Linked DNA regions of Homo sapiens. The protein of the gene in region 3 interacts with the protein of the main gene of each other region in a pairwise test. Each region holds a gene or a part of one and is shown on either strand. Other genes may lie near its edges.

Region 1 (7,129 bases), on a different chromosome or scaffold from region 3:
TTGTAAAATGCAAAATGTTAAAAATGTATGCAATTGTTTTTGTATTATTTTTACTCAGACATTCCCTGTGATCTATTAAGTGACAATGTAAAGTATAAACAGTTTTTGTGCTACACTTGATCCATGGCAATATAAATAATTCAATTTATGCTGGAATTGGGAAATTTACTTTTTAACAAACATCTTCAAACACAATGTAATATAAAAATAGATTTTTAAATATACATTTTGATTTTTAATTAAATAGTTTTGTTTCTTTCTGCTTCATTTCACAGAGTCACTTAATAAAATCCATGGTACTTACAGAAAAATTCCTGATGTCATATGCATGTGTTTCACTATAAGGCAGTTATGAGGTTGATAAAATTTCTTCTACAAATTTTTTCATTAGACATACGCAAATCAATAAACGTAATCCAGCATATAAACAGAACCAACAATAAAAACCATATGATTTTCTCAATAGATGCAGAAAAGGCCTTTGACAAAATTCAACAACGCTTCATGCTAAAAACTCTCAATAAATTAGGTATTGATGGGACGTATCTCAAAATAATAAGAGCTATCTATGACAAACCCACAGTCAATATCATACTGAATGGGCAAAAACTGGAAGCATTCCCTTTGAAAACTGGCTCAAGACAGGGATGCCCTCTCTCACCACTCCTATTCAACATAGTGTTGGAAGTTCTGGCCAGGGCAATCAGGCAGGAGAAGGAAATAAAGAGTATTCAATTAGGAAAAGAGGAAGTCAAATTGTCCCTGTTTGCAGATGACATGATTGTATATCAGAAAACCCCATCATCTCAGCCCAAAATCTCCTTAAGCTGATAAGCAACTTCAGCAAAGTCTCAGCATACAAAATCAATGTGCAAAAATCACAAGCATTCTTATACACCAATAACAGACAAACACAGAGTCAAATCATGAGTGAACTCCCATTCACAATTGCTTCAAAGAGAATAAAATACCTAGGAATCCACCTTACAAGGGACGTGAAGGACCTCTTTAAGGAGAACTACAAACCACTGCTCAATGAAATTAAAGAGGATACAAACAAATGGAAGAACATTCCATGCTCATGGGTAGGAAGAATCAATATTGTGAAAATGGCCATACTGCCCAAGGTAATTTATAGATTCAATGCTATCCCCACCAAGCTACCAATGACTTTCTTCACAGAATTGGAAAAAAACTACTTTAAAGTTCATATGGAACCAAAAAAGAGCCTGCATTGCCAAGTCAATCCTAAGCCAAAAGAACAAAGCTGGAGGCATCACGCTATCTGACTTCAAACTATATTACAAGGCTACAGTAACCAAAACAGCATGGTACTGGTACCAAAACAGAGATATAGACCAATGGAACAGAACAGAGCCCTCAGAAATAATGCCGCATATCTACAACTCTCTGATCTTTGACAAACCTGAGAAAAACAAGCAATGGGGAAAGGATTCCCTATTTAATAAATGGTGCTGGGAAAACTGGCTAGCCATATGTAGAAAGCTGAAACTGGATCTCTTCCTTATACCTTATATAAAAATTAATTCAAGATGGATTAAAGACTTAAATGTTAGACCTAAAACCATAAAAACCCTAGAAGAAAACCTAGGCAATACCATTCAGGACATAGGCAGGGGCAAGGACTTCATGTCTAAAACACCAAAAGCAATGGCAACAAAATCCAAAATTGACAAATGGGATCTAATTAAACTAAAGAGCTTCTGCACAGCAAAAGAAACTACCATCAGAGTGAATAGGCAACCTACAGAATGGGAGAAAATTTTTGCAGTCTATCCATCTGACAAAGGGCTAATATCCAGAATCTACAGTGAACTCAAACAAATTTACAAGAAAAAAACAAACAACCCCATTAAAAAGTGGGCAAAGGATATGAACAGACACTTCTCAAAAGATGACATTTATGAAACCAAAAGACACATGAAAAAATGCTCATCATCACTGGCCATCAGAGAAGTGCAAATCAAAACCACAATGAGATACCATCTCACACCAGTTAGAATGGCAACCATTAAAAAGTCAGGAAACAACAGGCGCTGGAGAGGATGTGGAGAAACAGGAACACTTTTACACTGTTGGTGGGACTGTAAACTAGTTCAACCATTGTGGAAGTCAGTGTGGCAATTCCTCAGGGATCTAGAACTAGAAATACCATTTGGCCCAGCCATCCAATTACTGGGTATATACCCAAAGGATTATAAGTCATGCTTCTATAAAGACACATGCCCACATATGTTTATTGTGGCACTATTCACAATAGCAAGGACTTGGAACCAAGCCAAATGTCCAACAATGATAGACTGGATTAAGAAAATGTGGCACATATACACCATGGAATACTATGCAGCCACAAAAAAGGATGAGTTCATGTCCTTTGTAGGGACATGGGTGAAGCTGGAAACCGTCATTCTCAGCAAATTATCACAAGGACAAAATACCAAACACCGCATGTTCTCACTCATAGGTGGGACCTGAACAATGAGAACACATGGACACAGGAAGGGGAACATCACACACCTGGGCCTGTTGTGCAGTGGGAGGAGGGGGGAGGGATAGCATTAGCAGATATACCTAATGTTAAATGACAAGTTAATGGGTGTAGCACACCAGCATAGCACATGTATACATATGTAACTAACCTGCACGTTGAGCACGTGTACCCCGAAATTTAAAGTACAATTAAAAAAAGAAGAAAATTCAACATAGACAAAATCTCTCTTTGCACTATAAAGGTTTATTTTTTTCTTCTGTAACATATCTGTGTTTGGGTATATCCAATGATATATCCAAAGTATAGCAAGTATTTAGGCTCAAACTGCCATGGTTTTGACAGTGATTTTTTTTTTAAAGTAAGCCAAAATAAATAAAAATGGCATAAAACCTCATAAGGATTCATGTAACGATTACATGGAGAAATTATTTCCCCAGGTAGAGCAAGCCATCTAATTATTTCAAATATTGAAACAAATCTAGCCATTCATATAAATCACCCACTCATTAGCCTAATGGATCTTTGAAAGTATATCAATGGGGGTTGGGCGCAGTGGCTCACACCTGTAATCCCAGCCCTTTGGGAGACCGAAGCAGGTGGATCACGAGGTCAGGAGATCAAGACCATCCTGGCTAACACGGTGAAACCCCATATCTACTAAAAATACAAAAACATTAACCGGGCGTGGATGGCGGGCACCTGTAGTCCCAGCTACTCAGGAGGCTGAGGCAGGAGAATGGCGTGAACCCGGGAGGCGGAGATTGCAGTGAGCTGAGATCACGCCACTGCACTCCAGCCTGGACGACAGAGCGAGACTCCGTCTCAAAAAAAAATAATAAATAAGTGAAAAAATAAAAGTACATCAATGGGATGCAATTGAGTTAATATTCAATAACTTATCAAAGAAGGAAACTTTTATTGTTTCTTCCAGACCACTCAAAACAGTCAACAATATATATTAAACTTAACACAAATTTTAACTTTTTTAAAAATATCTCAATATGAAGTCCTTTTAGAGTTGACAAAGATGTCAGTAAGACGTAATAATAAAAGCAATTTTTATTAATTATCTATGATGATATGGACATTGTACTATGTATGTCCCTATGCAAGTCTTTAACAATGTAAATTCAGCAATTATTATATTACTAAGTTTTCTATATAAGATAATTTACTTTTATTAAAGGAAATATAACAAATACTTACTAGAGACAGAAGAGAGCTGAGAATAGAATGGAGTAAGTAATAATAAAGTCACTAAACTAAGGCAGTTGTATGTTTGTTGTCATAATATATAGCCAGATTATAGCTAGGAGAGATTTTTAGAAATTAATACTGAACCCTGGAGCTTCAAGGTAGATGTTTCCATTGAACTGTAAAATAGGATTAATTCAACGAAAATGCTAAAATTATGGGGAAGCTAGCAGTGGAAGTATTGTTGGTTGCTTCACCTTGTAACAGTATTAATACACAGACTTACTTATATTGCATTTCTTTCATACAAAGTATGAAAATACTATAAAATAGTATTTTAATAGTACTATAGTACGTTAATAGTATTTAAATAGTATTTAAATTTAATGGTATTTTAACAGTACCATAAAATACTATAAAATAGTATAGTATAAAATACTATAAAATGCAATACAAATAGCCTTTTAACTTATTTACATTGCAATACTCACAAATGCAAAGTATTATTTTTGCTGAATTTGATGCATTTCCTCTTTATTATACATTGTTGACTGTGAACACTTAAGAGTTAACTTTTATTATTGTTATTCTTTATGAGGTGCTTAATTTCTAGCTGAGAAGTAAAAGTTCAACAGCATGATACTTACTCTTAACTACAATGATGTATTAATATAAGAAGTATAAACTCCTAAACTTAATAAATTCTAATAGGATTTCTATGTTGTCAAGTTTAGAGTAAATAATTCAATATATTCAGCAATTCTTTGGGAGTAAAGATATGCGGTATGAAGAAAACAAATTACTATGTAAAAATAAACTATGTCTAAAGTATAAAATAAATATAAAATAGCAGATGTTTACACATAAAGGGAGGATCAGTGGAAGTTATTTTTAAAAAGTGAAAATATTTTCCATTGTATTTATTGATATTATTCTTCAAATAAATTCTTTTCAAATAAAATATTTATTTCATTCTGCAAAAAAACCTTAAAATACAACTTGCAAAATACTCTATATTAATGTCAATCATTTCATATTTTTCAGTTAATTTGAATTGAGTAAAATATCTTGAAAATTAAAAACACCTCATAATGTCACTAGCTCAAAATGACCAATATGTTTGCAATAGCATTTACTAAAATCTACATAATGCTTATCACCTGCCAGACACTACACACTTTAAATACATAACTTATCTAATATTCTTAAGGTGCCATTACTACCCCAGGTTAGTTATCTTGTACATATAGCTAGCACTAACTGACATACTCAGGAATTAAAACTAGGTGGTCTACTTAGGAGACTGTACCTTTAACCATTGCTCTACCCCACCTTCTGAGGAAAATGATTCTGCCAGGGTCTGTATGTATTTGAAAGTCATTAATTAAACTATAATCAATCAGAGATGTCAAATGTGAATATGCTTTTCTCATTATGAAAGTGAATTTGTGAGTTACAAGCAATGAAAAGGAAAGTGAGCATAATAAACATGCCAAAAGATTAAACAGTGTAAATGTTAAGAATAGGGACAGTACAGATAAAAAGCAAATAATCATATTTAACATTCGAGGTCATACCATTTAAATTATCTACATGTACCAGAAAACTACAGTGGTATCACTTATAAATTATGCCCCAAGAGAACCGTCTCATTAACCTTGTTCAAAACATTAATGGTACTTTATTTCTAAAATAATAAACTGATCAAAATGTTTAAACAATGTTTTGTTTATTAAACAACACTATTCATATACCTCACATTTCTACAGAAAAAAAGTCAATCTTTATTTTCAGAAAATTTGACATAATTTGTTTTTACCTTTTCAGATACAAAGGAGTATAGAGATCTGACTCTATTATTCTAAGCCTGAAGTCAGTCAAGAAGAAAGTATGACTCTTAATAAATGTGGATCTACTTTCCTTTGAAGGTATCTTTGAAAGGAGCAGTAGGAGGGAGAGCAATGTAGATCTTCTCTAAAACTGAATTTCAAAGGATTTATTTGGCCCATCTTCCACATGGGAAGAATTAGAATTTTTTTTTTTTTTTGCCTTTTATTTCCCATTGTGAGACCCTAAATGGGAAAATAAGTCCAGGTTATGTAGGTCTCTATGTGGTATTAGATGCAATAGCAGCCATAGTGCAAGGAATGTAGGCCACAAAGGCCTGTGTAACTGGCTGCTGTGAACTTTAGTGGCAAACCTTAAAAAAGGGAAAAGAAAAAGGAAAGAAGACCTTTAGCACTTCCATATAGATCTCAACATCACTCAAAAAACTTTCTTCAACTGGGTCTGATGCATTAACGAGATCATAGAATTACTGCTAATTTAGAATTACATACTTTGGTGAGGAAAGTTTATTATTACAAATAAAATGCCATAGTTTATAAAAAAGAATTGGATGTGACAATAAGCCATATTTTAATATGTGGTTTATTATTGTGTGGATTAAAAGCAGAAAGCTTAAATTAAAAAGATAATTCCTTGAATTTCATTAAACAGTTTTAAAAATTGTTTTGCAGGTATTTAAACAGTGTAGAAACACTGTGAGATATATACATATATATATATATATATATAATGTCTTAAAATCCCAACATTTTAAAAGGAGCTCACCTCCTTTTAAAATTATGACAGATGAAAATTATGATAACTGTAATGTAAAATTAGGCAAACAAGTAAATAAAATTAAGTAAATAATGCAATTTTACCTGGTGCACTTATTAACAATATTCTTATTATTCAAATCTTACCTTTTCTTTATAAAATCTTCCTTAAACTATGATAATTCTTGTAGTTTCTGTATAATACCCAATGTCTGAATGAATATTCAAAAATCAGTCTCATTAATGTTTTAAAAACGCAACTGCTAAACAAACCATGTTTAAGTTTTTCAGCTATGCTAGCTTTTGCATCTCTTGAAACATAACTACTGGGCCAAGAGTTTCTAAATGATTTTCCAGTAAATGACATCTGTATTGAAACCTAAGACACACAGGCACTATAGTAAAGGTTCTGAAAAATTTCATTTTTTATAATCATAAATAAAATTAATCTATGATTTGACGAGGAAAAGAATTATTAGAATAGCAACATGAATCATATTTAAAAGAATATACAAGAGAATTAATTATTCCACAAAAGGTAAAAGAAATATTTTGTTTTGTTTTGTTTTTGGTCAGCAGTGGTTCAGGAGATGAACCAACTGTGGGCTCTCTGGCTATCATTATACAAATTTATCATCAATGAACCAGTGAAGCACGAAACTGAGGGTTAATATAGAATGAAAAGAGACTTTCCCCTCAATATATCACTTTAGAAGCATATATTCTGAGTTCTAAAAGCAATAATCTTCCACATAAAATTCAATACAAGAGTGATCTCCAACCACATTAGATCAAATTATGGCAAGATTCAAATAATATC
Region 2 (7,129 bases), on a different chromosome or scaffold from region 3:
GCTTGCTGTCCTGCAGAATAATAATGAGATAATGGCAGAAGTACAGTACGAACTAAACTCCAAGTGGAGAAAACAGAAGAATCGACTTTAAGACCTTTTTGATGAGCCTGTTTTAATCCTTCTCCTGCTGTATCCCAATTTTCCACATCAAGAGTGCCTGCCTGTGGAAACGATGGGTTATGTGTAATAACCTTTTGTGGCTTCTGCAGGAGGTTAGTGTCTGCGAATTAACCTGAGCTGCAGACTGTCTCAACAGAACTTTAAGCAACTGCACATAATGTTTTTCTTCAATAGACAAATTCTTTCCCTTGTTACCCTGAGTCAGAAAACTTCCCAGTACTTCTTTAAAGCACTGCTCCCAGTACCTCTTTAGGGCACTGACCTTATATCTGCTGCCGGCAGACTCTTCCCAGGGTCCCCTTTCGCCTTGTCAATTTCAGTTCCTCTGCTCCAGCAGACCTTCTTCATTCACGTCCTTGAAGTCCCATGTTTGGATGCTGCTAGTTGGGCGTGCTTGGAGTCCCTGTTCTGGTTGCCATTTGTAACCTGCACGGACCTAGGTGGACTAAACAAAGTGGGGTGAACACGGGAATAAAGATGAGACAAAAGAGTGTATTTGGAAGAAGGGATCGGGGGCGCTTTGCCTCTAGGGGACAAGGGCCCTGAGCTTTACACAGCCCTTCATATTTATTAGGCAAAAGAGACAGTGAGAAGGGGAGGTGGAAGAAGGGGTCAGCTGCTCGGTCCAGAGTAGTCTTGCAAGACTGCATTCTCTAGATGTCGCAGTAGATAACGGCGCCAGGGGTCCAGAGTAGTCTTGCAAGACTGCATTCTCTAGATGTCGCAGTAGATAACGGCGCCAGGGGTCCAGAGTAGTCTTGCAAGACTGCATTCTCTAGATGTCGCAGTAGATAACGGCGCCAGGGAGTGATTGCCTCCAGCAAACCTTCATCAGCCGGAGCAGTCATGAGTTTGCTGACATCCTGCATTCATGATAAACAGTTTGCTGTTTGATCTGTAGCCTCCAGTGGAATGCTGAGTTGGTCACGTCCCACGGGCCACGAGCCTTCGGCTCCCTGCAGCAGGTGCCTGTAAACTCAGCTACTCGGGAGGCTAAGGCAGAGAATTGCTTGAACCCGGGAGGCCGAGATCACACCATTGCACTCCAGCCTGGGCGACAGAGTGAGACTCCATCTCAAAAATTAAAATAAAATAAAATAAACCCCAGATGTTATTGGATTTTAATTTTTAATCCATTCTGACAGTTTTGAGGCATTTATATTTAATGTAATTAACTGGGATCCATGCTCTGTTTTTACTTAGCATAAAATACTTAATGTAATGTAATTTTCTTAGTACATTTTATTTTAAAACAGCTATCTAAATGCATTGTATTTGCTCTTTTTGCTCTGTTTTTGATTCTCTTCTTTTGGATGAATTTCTTGTTATTACATTTCCCCCTTTTGTTGGCATGGAACTTACGTACTTTAAAACAATTACTAGTTTTTTTTTTTTTTTTTTTTTTTAAGACGAGGTTTCGCTCTTTTTGACCAGACTGGAGTACAATGGCACAGGCTTGTCTCACTGCAACCTCCATCTCCCGGATTCAAGCAATTCTTCTGCCTCAGCTTCTGGAATAACTGTATTTTTATAGAGATGGGGTTTCACCATGTTGGCTAGGCCGGTCTCGGACTCCTGATGTCAGGTGATCCACCCGCCTCGGCATCCCAAAGTGCTGGGATTACAGGCGTGAGCCACTGTGCCTGGACTTACTAGTGTTAATTGTAACTAGAGATTACATGTAGTGTGCAACCTTTGTCATATTCTTCTGCTAATTGGCACTTTTCCATTCTACAGAAACCTTAGAGCACGTCAACTTTATTCACCACCTAATTATCCAGTAAATTATTGTGTATTTTAGCTTTTTATGTATTTAAAACCTCCTAAAATATTGTCAGTACTGTTTTTATGACAATGCTTATGATTTGCCCAGTACATTGGCTTTCAAACTGAAGTACATGTCTTCACAGGGTGTATGTACAAAGACTTTTGAAGAGGTGTGGGAGCACACATGATTTAAAGGAAAACAAAGACCAGGTCCTCTCCTTGCTGATTGTCTCTTTTCTAAAACTAATCTGCCTAAGAGTTCACCATCTCCTGAGGCTGGTGCTATGGTGGGTCTCATTTCCTACCTGCCTTCACAGTCCTTCCACGGAAACGTCACAGAGGAAAGGCATACCTCCACCACATTAAGAATCCTAGACATTATTGGCCACAGGTATAAAATCCGCTGGGGCTCCAAACAAAGGTATATAGTTAACTATATTGGGGGCATTGCTTTAAGATGAGTGCCTAGCAGCAGTGACAGTATCTGGGCCTGGAAAAAATGTACCACTTACATTGAATTTGCTCTTCAACCCACAGGTTCTGACTCCTCAGGAGCAAAAAACATAACCTGAAGAGGGAGGAAGTGGATTTGGGGTTCACCATTTCTTGGGGCACACTTGATTGAAAACTGAGACTTCTGAAGAGAAGGCCAGAAGATACAAAGACAGACCATCCCAGTTGAATGCTGTCTTCCAAGAACAGAAGAAAATGATCCAGGCCCAGGTAACTGACTTTTGGTTTGTTTTATTCTTTCCTTTGTTCCATAATAGATTTGTAGAAGCCTATAAACATCAATTTCACTAATATAAAAAGTATAAATTTCAAAAAGCAGGATCTGGAGAGAAGTAAGCTTAGTTTTTAAACTCAATATCATGCAAAATAGTAGGATAAGGAATATAATGTTCATAGCATTAACACTAAATTATGAATTTTGTGACACCATGCATGGCTGGAGGATCCTGTGGATTATATTAGCTGTCAGCTTGCATCTAATATCTCTGACAGCCAATGTCACAAGAAAATCATAATTTACATGGTATGTCCTGTTTTTGAAGATAAAACAGATTACTTCCTGGGGGTTGCCATTATTTCATGGCACTTTGGTCTCAGGAAATTTCTTCAGTGGTTCTTCCTAGAGTTGATGTGGTGGATGGTGTCCAGAATAGCAGCCTTCTCATAAATTCAGATGCAGGTTTCCTGTGGCTGTTTCTTGAAGGACTCCTTATATACTGTTACGGAATAGACTAAGCAAACAGTAAACACAGGGACCAACACAAGTTAATTTCAGCCTTGTGGCAGTCTGGATTTAACTTGGAATAAAACCTAGACATCCTGGGAATATGGCAGGATTCCAGGACTTTCAAATGGTTCTCAATGAACAGATAGCTGAACTGGTGTTTGAATATAGATTTGGAGACAGGGAGTTGAAAGTGATATTGTCTGAACAGGACTTGGATTGGAGTTTACAGATTTCCTTTAGACTTTCACCTTGTAGAAAATGCCAAGTCCTTATTGTATAGTAAATAATTGAACAAAGGGAGTTTTGGCCTTTGTGTTCAAGCTAATGGAGGGTGAGCTCTGGGCTTCTGGAATATCTTGCTAATGGTAGTGTCTTTGTTTGCTTGGGTCCTTTGGCCACTGGACAGCCTAAAAATACGAACTATGATAGATCTGTGATCTATGATAGGCCAGAAACTTCCAGAACTAGAGGCTAAAGTTAAAACCTGACTTCTGGGAGGGTGTGGACCTAAGATCAGCCACATAGGTCATCTGTGATTGTGTCCCAGTAAAGTAAGAAAGTACACATATCAAAAAATAAATTTCGGCTGGGCGCGGTGGCTCATGGCTGTAATCCAGCACTTTGGGAGACCGAGGTGGGTGGATCACGAGGTCTGGAGATCGAGACCATCCTGGCTCACACCGTGAAACCCTGTCTCTACTAAAAATACAAAAAATTGGTCGGGTGTGGTGGCAGGTGCCTGTAGTCCCAGCTACTCGGGAGGCTGAGGCAGGAGAATGGCGTGAACCCAGGAGACGGAAATTGCAGTGAGCCGAAATGGTGCCACTGCACTCCAGCCTGGGTGACAGAGAGACTCCATCTCAAAAAAAAAAAAAAAAAAAGTTTCTGGCTGAGTGCAGTGGCTTATGCCTACTTTGGGAGGCTTAGGCAGGAGGATTCCTTGAGCCCAGGAGTTTGAGACTAGCCTGGGCAATCTAGTGAGACCTTGTCTATATTTAGTAAAATTGAAGAAAAGAGAAAAAGTTTTCTTTTCACATATTTTCTTCCTAATCCACTTCTGTAAATGGTTGGTAATATTTACTTCCTGTCACTGTATCTGTTTGTGGATCTATGTCTATATATGTATTAATAAAAGTGTGAGTATATATGAATCTATCTGTAGATATATATATTCATTATGATATACACATATATATATTTTACATGATAGAATCATATTTCAAAGAACATAGCAGCCAACTTGAAGGGACTCTTCATTGGCCGAAGATGCTACACTTTGAACATCCAAAGACCAATGATTGCAAATGATTGAAGAACATTAATTATATAAAATTCCATCAGTTTATAGCTATACTTGAAAAAAATGCATTTGTCACCATTGGGGGTTAGGAGAGAATCAAGTATTTAATCTGAAAAATGATAAAAGATCATAAAGGTTTTGTGTGTGTGTGTGTGGCGGGGGTGGGTTGACTATGAGTTTATTTTTTACTTTTACTTTTCTGCTTTTTTTCTTTTTTCCTTTTTTTTTTTTTTTTAATTGAGATGGGGTCTTGTCATGTTGCCCAGGCTGCTCTTGAACTCCTGGGCTCAAGCAATCCTCCTGCCTCCCAAAGTGCTGGGATTACAGGCATAAGCCATTGTGCCTGGCCCTCTTGGTAATTTTGTATTACTGACCCATACTCTGCTCCTTGGCTATAAATTCCCACTTGCTTATGCTGATATTTGGAGTTAAGTCCATTCACCCTCTACCACTGCAAAATCCCATTACATTTGTCTATATACCTGTCATAATGGCCCTGAATAAAGTCTTCCTTACTGTGCTTTAACAATTCTCATTGAATAATTTTTTTAAACATGTATAGCTTAATTAAGGAGGTGAGATTCCAACGCCTTTGCCATATTCTGAATAGAGGTAAGTCACTAGGCCAGTCCCTGCTCAAGGAGAGGGTGTAGAGCACCCAATTCTGTCCCTGTTTGGGCGCCACTTGTAACCCGCACAGACCTAGGGGGACTGAACACAGTGGGGTGAACACAGGAATAAAAGACAAGAGACAAAAGTATATTCGGAGGAAGGGGTCAGGGGGTACCTTGCCTCTAGTGGACAAGGGCCCTGAGCTTTACACAGCCCTCTGCATTTATTAGGCAAAAGAGATAGTTGGGGGGGTGCAGTGGAAGTAGGGGTCAGCTGCTCAGTCCAGAGGAGGCTTGCAAGACTACATTCTCTAAATGTTGCAGTAGATAACCTCAGCACCAGGGAGTGATTGCCTCCAGAAAACCTTCTGTCGGCAGGAGCAATGGTGAGTTTGCTCACATCCTGCATTCATGATAAACAGTTTGCTGTTTGATCATATAGCCTCCAGTGGAATGCTGAGTTGGTCACGTCCCACGGACCTTTGGCTCCCTGTAAGTGGGAACTACATAAAGGTGTGAACACTGGGAGGGTGGAGTTCATTGAGCCATCAAATCTGCCTGCCATAGATCTGTCATATAGTAAACTATTTTTGAGTGTGGATTGAGGTAAGACTTTCACTTTACTTTTTTCCAAATAGATAGCTATCTCACATAAATAATTTAGAATGGGTAAACCAACCAGGATTAAGTACTTGTATCATCTACCAAGTGTGTTCACTGGCCTCTGTAATAAAATGAGTATAGAGTGTACCTTCTGCTGTTCCCTGGGTCTTCAATGACTCAATTTCCCACCAGCAGTATCCTTTAAAGCCATCCTGCATCCTGAGACAAGAGATTGACAATTCATTGATAAGTAGTCTTAATTGTCACTATTACAGGGCTGTAGGTCCTTTGCCAGCCATGCCTTTCAGTCCTAAATGGTCTTCAAGGTTGGGCTGTGTTGTCCAAGAGCTGAGGACCTTACATTTATTGTTCCAATATTTATTGGCTATAATGATTTCTGTGGAGCAGTCAGCTGTCAGAAAATTTTGTCTCCTTTGTAGGTAACCTGTCATTGGTCTTTGGATTTTTTTATAGTCTCCCTTTGTATCTGGTGTAATTTAGTTTCAATCTGTTGTGCCTACGTGTAGACTTCTTGCTTGAAAAGTTGTTGGATTTCTTGAGTTTGAATTTTGGAGTGTTTAATCAGTTCTGAAAAATTTTCAGTGTTAGATCTTTGGATATTGTTTCTCCATTACTTGATTTTCTCCTTCTTCTTGAGAAATTATCAAACTCAAGGAGGTCATAGGAACCCTCAGTTTATAATTAGTCCATCAGAAAAATAGGAGGCCTGGATTTGTGATATATGGTTGGCCCTCCATATCCATGGCTTCCACATCCATGGATTCAACCAACTGAGGATTGAAAATATATATTTTTTAAGCATCTGAACTGAGCACATACAGACTTTTTTATTGTCATGATTCCCTAAACAATATAGTATAACAACTGTTAACATACCATTTACATTGTATTAGATATTATAAGTAATCTAAAGATAATTTAAAGTATATGGGGCTGGGCACGGTGGCTCACTCCTGTAACTCCAGCACTTTGGGAGGCTGAGGTGGGTGGATCGTCTAAGGTCAGGAGTTTGAGAACAGCCTGGCCAACATAGTGAAACCCCATCTCTACTAAAAATACAAAAAATTAGCTGGTTGTGGTGGCGGGCACCTGTAATCCTAGCTACTCGGGAGGCTGAGGCAGGAGAATCGCTTGAACCTGGGAGGCGGAGGTTGCAGTGAGCCAAGATTGTACCATTGCACTCCAGCCTGGGAAAGAGGAGCAAAACTCCGTCTCAAAAAAAAAAAAAAAAAAATTAGCCAGGCGTAGTGTCACATGCCTGTAGTCCTAGCTACTTGGGAGGCTGGGGCAGAAGAATTGCCTGCTCCTGGGAGGCGGAGGTTGCAGTGAGCTGAGATTATGCCACTGCACCCCAGCCTGGGAAAGAGAGTGAGTCTCCATTTCAAAAAAACAGAAATGTATATGGGAGGATGTGCATGGGTTACATGCAAATCTGCAAGTACTATTCCATTTTATTTTATTTTATTA
Region 3 (3,252 bases):
CCTGTTAGGTATCCAATTAGCTCCTGTTGCCAGGGCAATTGTGGCTCAGGGCCAGATCAGAAGCAGGCTGGAGCAGAGCCCACAACCCCTAAGAACATTGTTTTCCTCTTTCATTTACTCAATTCCCTCAGGCTTTAAAAGTTATCCCACAGACTGGGGTCTGGGCCTAAGAAAAACACCCAAACTTCCCAAATAAACTGTATTCCTTATTGCGTGTCAGGTTTCATCCTTAAGCTGAGCTTGGGCCCCAAGAGGGTAAATGGGAGAGCTGCTGATTCGGGTTTCTGGGAGATGGTTAGCCCTGAGCACTCTACATGTTTTCCCATTTTCCTTCACAGCAAGGCTGGAGCTCACAAACCAGACTGTGAACAGAAGCTCTGGGTACTAAAGGAAGAATACTGGTGGACTCTCTGTAAGGCTGTTTCTCAGGGCAGCCTTTTCCCTTCCCAAGATTTTCTTTCTGTATCATTGTCATCAAGCAAGAGAGGCTGTACCTGCAGCACAGCCCTAATTACCCAGCGACTGGTACTCACCTCCTTCAGAGTACAGCACACAAGTTCCTGCCTGCGACAGTTCTCAGCCTTGGTTTTGAAACAATCAGGATGCTAAAAAATTCTCAAAGCAATTCATTTTTATTTTTTAAAAAACACCCCAAAATAAAAAACCACTGACTCATCCATGCCAAACTGCACTTTCCAGAGGAAGCATGTCAGCAGACTCAAACGGACAATGGACAGAATCCCATGACACCAAAGTCATTCAAACCTGATGCTTCAGAGGCTGACATTCTGAGCTGAAATAGCCACAGGTCACCACTTGGCCTGATGTGGGACTCTCCTTTCTTTTTAGTCTATTCATGTGGTGGCAGAAGATGTGAGACTCTAGTCTCCAGTCAGGGAGGCTTCTCCTGTTATAGAAAAATATTAGAGTCTAGGCTTGACTTAGCGATGGGTGGGCTATATTAAGAATCATACCCTGCTTCTTCAAAGTCTAGACGATGCATTTGTAGTTCTGGCTTCTCTCAGGGGTTGTGGATCTCAGGGACCAGAGAGAGCTTTTAGTCCTTTTATGGATGGGTTCACTGTGACTCTAAAATCTTTTCTCATTGAAATTAGCCAGCATAATTTGACAGACACTCAGAAAAACACCCTAATCATATTAGGCTGAAGGCCAGGTCTGGAAGTAAATTCTTTAAAAGTTTGGGCTTCAGGAAGGATAGGTTGAAGGTGAAAATGGAGTATGTTAAAATGGGGATATTAAAAATATATTTAAAACTAGGAGGCTAATCCCTGGCAGAAGAGAACTCTTCTTTGATTTGCCAATCCCTGGCCTTTTCTTACTCCTTATTTGTACTGACTCCAGGTTTTCCATAGCATGAATGCCTGCCGCTGCTCTACGCATAGTAAGTTATAGCGTTCTACAGATTGGTCATCTAGACCGAAGACACGGAGGAAAACATGTTCTGGCAATTCTACCTGGCTCAAGGTGTAAGTATGTATTTTTAATTCTCAGAGGAGAAAAAGCATTACAGAGGCAGTCTAGAACAATCATTGTCACCTTTCCAACTTCCGTGTTGATGACATCAATAACAGATGGAAAAGAAATAATTAAAAATAAAGGAGAAAGAGTTTTCCATGATTCACCAAAGTAGTAGGAGTATTCTGTCAGGAAAGCTTAGAACCATTTATCAGCTGCTACCTAAAATTTAGCATTTAACTTTAATTATGCCTAGTTACGAATTAAGCAAAACAGAAAGTGTTTTAACATGACCAGCTGCTACAGATTGAAATAGTTTCACAGTAGAAATTTTTATTTTTTTATTGTTCTTTTTTGATTATGCAATAAGCCCCCTTCTTAACAGATTGTCACAAAAACTAAATTGTAATGACATTAGCCAGCTAACCTGTCTGCCCCAACTCCCTTAAACACCAAGGAATAAAGCATACTAATATGGTCATAAGTCAAACTTCCTCTGGGAAAGAAGATCCAGGCTAGACTCTTTCAGAGCCCCTGTGGGGCAGAAGCAGAATCCTTACATCATAGTTAGGTTTTGGTGGTATTCATTTTTTTTTCATTATTATCAAGGTAACTGTATCTAACACTGGACCAGAAGAAAATGTCCTTAATCCTTATCTCATTACCCTTTCCCAAAAAGAAGACATCAGAGATTGTGTGGGTCAACTTAAAAGAAGAGGCGAGCATGCTCCTGGTTCATGGAAGGAAATGAGCTTCCATCATCTGCACATGATCAGCGGGCATCAAAATCTGTTAATTCAGAACAATATGAAGACACACTCCCATTTGAAGCTTACTTTCTAATCTAAGGAGAAATCATGATAGCACATGATGAAAGAGTACATCAATAACTCTGAGGGTAGATGGTAGGATAGAATACTAGAAGATGAGCAGGTATTAGGTGGATTAGCCAATTTTCCATATTGAAAGAAAAAATGAGGCTGGGCACGGTCGCTCACACCTATAATCCCAGCACTTTGAGAGGGTAAGGCACATGGATCACTTGAGCCCAGGAGTTCAAGACCAGCCCGAGCAACATGGTGAAACCCCCTCTCTACAGATATACAAAAAATTAGCCAGGCATGGTAGCACGTGACTGTAGTCCCAGTTACTCTGGAGGTTGAGATGGGAGAATCACCTGAGCCTGGGAGGTTGAGGCTGCAGACAACACTGCGCCACTTCACTCCAGCCTGGACGACAGAGCGAGACTCTGTCTCAAAAAGAAAAAATAAAGAAAAAGAAAAAATGACTTGGGGAATGAAATAAAAATTCTAACCCAACTCTCACCGTGTCAGAAACAACTTGGAAATTAAAATTTGTCAATTTAGAACTCAGTAAGTCACCTAACCTAACCAGTTTGACTGAAATGACTAGAAGAAAAATGGCTAAAGAACAATCCAGTAACTGAGGAAGAGACAGTCTGAATTTCTGTACTAACTCTGATCCAATTCAGTCACTCATTGCTATGGCTGGGCAGGGATCCAAGTGAAACTTTTAACAGTGGCCAATAAGGTGGCATAGAGTTACTGCCTCTAAAAACCACAACTTGTCCCTAAGCTTGAAACCCAACCATAAACTTCCTCAAATCCATGTGGACGAGCACCATGTTTTTAAGCAGCCCACTCTCCTCAAACTTGAATTGGCCTGCAGAAGACAGGTATGCCAACTTCAATGACTCTGCTCTGCATCACTCTCTCGGTTGCCAAATTGAGGCAGAAACATCCATTTGCCTTCCTG

Evidence for each region.
Region 1: the proteins of DYRK3 (region 3) and MAGI2 interact in a two-hybrid assay, tested with the Homo sapiens proteins (one study listed by BioGRID).
Region 2: the proteins of DYRK3 (region 3) and ZNF350 interact in a two-hybrid assay, tested with the Homo sapiens proteins (one study listed by BioGRID).

Annotation. Positions count from the first base shown.
Region 1 is NC_000007.14:79,443,616-79,450,744, forward strand, and holds part of MAGI2 (membrane-associated guanylate kinase, WW and PDZ domain-containing protein 2), read right to left. Parts: intron 1-7,129. UniProt on the Homo sapiens protein: Seems to act as a scaffold molecule at synaptic junctions by assembling neurotransmitter receptors and cell adhesion proteins. Plays a role in nerve growth factor (NGF)-induced recruitment of RAPGEF2 to late endosomes and neurite outgrowth.
Region 2 is NC_000019.10:51,969,827-51,976,955, reverse strand, and holds part of ZNF350 (zinc finger protein 350), read left to right. Parts: intron 1-382; exon of another isoform or gene 383-565; intron 566-2,030; exon of another isoform or gene 2,031-2,278; intron 2,279-2,424; 5' UTR 2,425-2,595; coding exon 2,596-2,610; intron 2,611-7,129. UniProt on the Homo sapiens protein: Transcriptional repressor. Binds to a specific sequence, 5'-GGGxxxCAGxxxTTT-3', within GADD45 intron 3.
Region 3 is NC_000001.11:206,652,520-206,655,771, reverse strand, and holds the end of DYRK3 (dual specificity tyrosine-phosphorylation-regulated kinase 3), read right to left. Parts: 3' UTR 614-3,252; downstream 1-613. UniProt on the Homo sapiens protein: Dual-specificity protein kinase that promotes disassembly of several types of membraneless organelles during mitosis, such as stress granules, nuclear speckles and pericentriolar material.